Regions from separate parts of the Homo sapiens genome. Here region 2 is linked to region 1. Evidence: fine-mapped expression QTL. Tissue or cell type: cerebellum. Region 1 holds a variant in brackets; the other region holds the start of a gene. All regions are shown on one strand. Distances are from middle to middle.

Region 1 (2,760 bases):
ATTTTTGTAATTTTAGTAGAGATGGGGTGTCACCATATTGGTCAGGCTGATCTTGAGCGCCTGACCTCAGGTGATCCACCCGCCTTGGGCTCCCAAAGTGCTGGGATTACAGAAGTGAGCCACCGTGCCCAGCCTACAAATGTTATCAATTTGATGAAGTCTAATTTATCTATTTTTGTCATTGTTCTCTGTGCTTTTGGTATGATATCCAAAAAATCATTGCCATATGTCATGAAGATTTTCTCCAATGTTTTCATCTAAGAATTTTAAGGTTTTTAGCACCTATGTTTAGGTCTTTGATCTGTTTTTAAGTTAGTTTTTCCCTGTATTATAAGGTAAACATCCAACTTCATTCTTTTGCATGTAGATATCCAGTTTTCCCAGCACCATTTGTTGAAAAGTCTGTTCTTTCTCCATTAAATGGCCCTGGCACCCTTGTCACAAATCAGTTGGCCATATAAGCCATAGTTTATTTCTGGGCCCTCTATTCGCTTGTGTCTGTATGTCTCTCCTTATGCCAGTACCATACTGTTTTGATTACTGTAGCTTTAAAGTAAATGTTGAGGTCAGGAAGTATGAAGCCTCCAACTTTGTTCTTCTTTTTCTTTTTCTTTCTTTTTTCTTTTTCTTTTTTTTTTTAGTATTCATTGATCATTCTTGGGTGTTTCTCGGAGAGGGGGATTTGGCAGGGTCATAGGACAATAGTGGAGAGAAGGTCAGCAGATAAACATGTGAACAAAGGTCTCTGGTTTTCCTAGGCAGAGGGCCCTGCCGCCTTCCGCACTGTTTGTGTCCCTGGGTACTTGCGATTAGGGAGTGGTGATGACTCTTAACGAGTATGCTGCCTTCAAGCATCTGTTTAACAAAGCACATCTTGCACCGCCCTTAATCCGTTTAACCCTTAGTGGACACAGCACATGTTTCAGAGAGCACGGGGTTGGGGGTAAGGTTATAGATTAACAGCATCCCAAGGCAGAAGAATTTTTCTTAGTACAGAACAAAATGGAGTCTCCTATGTCTACTTCTCTCTACACAGACACAGTAACAATCTGGTCTCTGTTTTCCCCACATTTCCGCCTTTTCTATTCGACAAAACCGCCATCGTCATCATGGCCCGTTCTCAATGAGCTATTGGGTACACCTCCCAGACGGCGTGGCGGCCGGGCAGAGGGGCTCCTCACTTCCCAGACGGGGCGGCCGGGCAGAGGCGCCCCCCACCCACCTCCCGGACGGGGCGGCTGGCCGGGCGGGGGCTGCCCCCCACCTCCCGGACGAGGCGCCTGGCCGGGCGGGGGCTGCC[C/T]CCCACCTCCCGGACGGGGCGGCTGCCGGGCGGAGACACTCCTCACTTCCCAGACGGGGCGGCTGTTGAGCGGAGGGGCTCCTCACTTCTCAGGCGGGGCGGCCGGTCAGAGACGCTCCTCACCTCCCAGACGGGGTGGTGGTGGGGCAGAGACACTCCTCAGTTCCCAGACGGGGTCGCGGCCGGGCAGAGGCGCTCTTCACATCTCGGACGGGGCGGCGGGGCAGAGGCGCTCCCCACATCCCAGACGATGGGCGGCCGGGCAGAGACGCTCCTCACTTCCTAGACGGGATGACGGCAGGGAAGAGGCGCTCCGCACTTCCCAGACTGGGCGGCCGGGCAGAGGGGCTCCTCACATCCCAGACGATGGGCGGCCAGGCAGAGACGCTCCTCACTTCCTAGACGGGGTGGCGGCCGGGCAGAGGCTGCAAACTCGGCACTTTGGGAGGCCAAGACAGGCGGCTGGGAGGTGGAGGTTGTAGCGAGCCGAGATCACGCCACTGCAGTCCAGCCTGGGCAACACTGAGCACTGAGTGAGCGAGACTCCGTCTGCAATCCCGGCACCTCGGGAGGCCGAGGCTGGCAGATCACTCGCGGTCAGGAGCTGGAGACCAGCCCGGCCAGCACGGCGAAACCCCGTCTCCACCAAAAAATACGAAAACCAGTCAGGCGTGGCGGCGCGCGCCTGCAATCCCAGGCACTCGGCAGGCTGAGGCAGGAGAATCAGGCAGGGAGGTTGCAGTGAGTCGAGATGGTTGCAGTACAGTCCAGCCTTGGGTCGGCATCAGAGGGAGACCGTGGAGAGGCAGTGGCAGAGGCAGAGGCAGGGGCAGGGGCAGAGGCAGAGGGACAGGGGCTTTTCTTTTATTTTTGCATAAAGACAAACTTTATTGAGCCCCTCAGCACTAGCTCTCTTTCTCCTGCACAGTCTTCGTTCCCCGGAGACGTCCAGTCCGGCGGGGAGCAATGAGACCCACTTTGCGGCCAGCAGGGGCATCCATCTTGAAGGCTGGCCGGGCCTACCACAAATATAAGGCAAAGAGGAACTGTAGGCCACGAGTACGGGGTGTGGCCATGAACCCTGTGGAGCATCCTTTTGAAGGTGGCAACCCCCAGCACATTGGCAAGCCCTTCATCATCATGAAGGTGTTTGAAGTTTGTCAAATGCTTTTTTGCATTAATGCAAAGAACTGTGTTTTTTCTTTCATTCTGTTTATGTATACATTATATTAATTACTTGTTTTATATGCTGAATCCTTCCATTTCAGGAATAAATCCTACTTTGCTATGGTGTATAATCCTTTTAATATGTTGTTGAATTTAGTTTGCCAGTATTTTGTTGAGGAATTTAGCATCAATATTCATAAAAAAATATTGGCCTGTAGCTTTCTTTTTTGTAATGGCTTTGTCTGGCTTTGGTATCAGAATAATGCTAGCTTCATAAAATGAGTTAGGAAGTG
Region 2 (2,760 bases), 41 kb before region 1:
AGCTTTACTGTGGTTAAATGGATATAAAAATATCCAATCTCTCTAACAGAGTTGTGAGGATTAAATAACAAAATTTGTAAACCTATTTAATAGTACTGGGCATACAACTCCTCAATAAATGTTATTACAATCACTGCGACAGAACAAAGATCACTGGAGGAATATTTCCAAATCGTTAGAGGTTTTAAGATCATCACAACTGTAATCCCAGCACTATGGGAAGCCGAGATGTGTGGATCACTTGAGGTCAGGAGTTCGAGACCAGCCTGGCCAACATGGGGAAACCTCGGCTCTACTAAGTAGCTGGGCGTTGTGGCACACACCTGAAATCCTAACTACTTGGGAGGCTGAGGCAGGAGAATCGCTTGAACCCGGGAAGCAGAGGATGCAGTGAGCCAAGTTGGCACCACTTCACTCCAGCCTGAGTGACAGAGCTAGACACCATCTCAAAAAAGGAGCACCACTGAACTTTGTAACATTAACTGACAGAAAAGACACTAGACACTAGAATTCTATGAGCCCCCAGCAGTGTCAGAAAATCCTCTTACATGTATTTTGTTTTTTGTTGAAGAAAAAAAACTTAAACAGAGAAATATTGCTAGATTTCTTAGATTAGATAAGGATAAAATGAGAACTATCTTATTCTACTCGTTCCTTGTATTATTCAAGATTCAGTACCCTGCTGGTAAGTTTCATTCAGCGAATCCAGCACACATGAATTAAATGCTAGTTAAGGTACAATGTCTCCAACAGGCACGATGTCAGAATAATGGTTTCTGTCCATCAGAACAAAGGATGAGATGCGCCTCTTGGATTTGACTGTAGCCCAATGGTCATCATCGCTGGCTGCACATTAACATTATCCAGGAAATTTTAAAGCTCTATAGGTGATTCTAAGGAAGAGGAGGACTGAGAGGCCGACTGTTAAGATGCACTGCTACTGTCCGATGAGCACACACTCATCCATAACGTTACACATTTCCTATTCACCTGATGCCCAGAATCATCAAACAGTGTATTCAACACAGTCACGCCATTTCTGTTTTCCAGGTGACTATCCTCCACAAGATACTGTTATCCAGAGCAGGTAAACTCCCTAGCATCTGTCGCTCAAGAACTTAAATCCCTCCCTGCACCCAACCCATCAACAGTGACTTATTACCATCCACAAGCCAGGCTGCTTCCCGATGCACCTTTTCTCCTGGGGAGTGCCCAGACGAGCGCCATCTGCTCCTGGGTCAGAGGAGTCCCTGCAGAGTCATCGACTTCCTCATTTCCAAAAGCCCCATAGGTTGCACTGGAGTCCCGAGGCGAAGCGCCGACACTTCATCTGCCCGTCACCTCCCGATTTTTGCAATGTGTTTCTTCTGAACAAGAATGTGTGCCCTGGAAGCCAACTCAAGTCCCAGACCTAGGTTTCTCGACATTTCCCCAAGTCCCACCTGCGTCAGGTTGTAGGCTCCGGGGCCAGTCCCTTTCGATCCGCATCAAAAAACCTGGCGATCCCCTTTGGGCACAAGAGCTCAGGGCGTTGGTCCCCGCGATCGCGGAAGCCCACTTCCAGAAAAACTCGACCACTAACAGTAAGCTTCAGGGGTAGCAAAAAGGGGCAGAAGGGTTTGCATCCCCTGGCGTCATTTCCGGGTCCGCTCTGGAAACCTCGGAGGTTTCCGTGTCTCTGTCGTTTATTCCAACTGTTAATGCTCCATGTGCCTTTGACTCTCCTCACCTTCCCTTCTAAACACACGGGGAAGAAAGGTTCAGGTTTCCCAGAGAAATTGTGGGGAAAAACCTTTAAAGTATATATACAAAGGTAGACAGAATAGTACAGTGCATCCAATGTACCTGACACACCTTCAAGAATTACTAACTCGGCCGGGCGCGGTGGCTCACGCCTGTAATCCCAACACTTTGGGAGGCCGAGACGGGCGGATCACAAGGTCAGGAGTTCGAAACCAACCTGGCCAACATAGTAAAACCTCGTCTGTACTAAAAATACAAAAAACTAGTTGGGCGTGGTGGCGGGCGCCTGTAATCCTAGCTACTCGGGAGACTGAGGCAGGAGAATCGCTTGAACCTTGGAGGCGGAGGTTGCAGCGAGCCGAGATGACACCACTGCACACCAGCCCGCGCGACAGTGCAAGACTCCTCTCAAAAAAAAAAAAAAAAAAAAAAAAAAAAGAAGAAGAAGGCCTGGCGCGGTGGCTCACGCCTGTAATCCCAGCACTTTGGGAGGCCGAGGTGGGCGGATCACCTGAGGTTGGGAGTTTGAGACCAGCCTGACCAAAATGGAGAAACCTTGTTTCTACTAAAAATAAAAAGAATTAGCCGGATGTGGTGGTGCATGCCTGCAATCCCAGCTACTAGGGAGGCTGAGGCAGGAGAATCGCTTAAACCCAGGAGGCGGAGGTTGTGATTAGCCGAGATAGCGCCATTGCACTCCAGCCTGGGCAACAACAGCGAAACTGCGCCTCAAAAAAAAAAAAAAAAGAAAGAAAACAAGATGAAAGAAAAGAAATACCAACTCGTGGCAATTTTATTAATCTATAAACCACTCCTCCCCTTATGTGGTTGGAAGCAAATCTTTTTAATTTTTTTTTTTTTTTGACGGAATCTTGCTCTGTCGCCCAGGCTAGAGTGCAGTGGCGCGACCTCGGCTCACTGCAACCTCCACCTCCCGTGTTCAAGCGATTCTCCTGCCTCAGCCTCCTCAGCCTCCCGAGTAGCTGGGATTACAGGCACCCACCACCGCACCTGGCT

What was found. PIP is the estimated chance that this variant, and not a neighbour inherited with it, causes the effect.
Region 2: it holds the start of LINC01012, and the variant in region 1 is fine-mapped to the expression of LINC01012 in cerebellum (GTEx, PIP 0.92).

Annotation. Positions count from the first base shown.
Region 1 is chr6:27,652,271-27,655,030 of GRCh38, reverse strand. It overlaps the pseudogene RPL8P1. Among named protein-coding and RNA genes, the nearest start is that of TRV-AAC3-1, 2.7 kb to the right of the region's middle. The variant C/T (reference allele first, on the strand shown) is at 1,301.
Region 2 is chr6:27,692,909-27,695,668 of GRCh38, reverse strand. It overlaps LINC01012 (long intergenic non-protein coding RNA 1012), which reads right to left and starts at 1,634. Exons shown (of 4, transcript NR_038294.1): 1 at 1,163-1,634.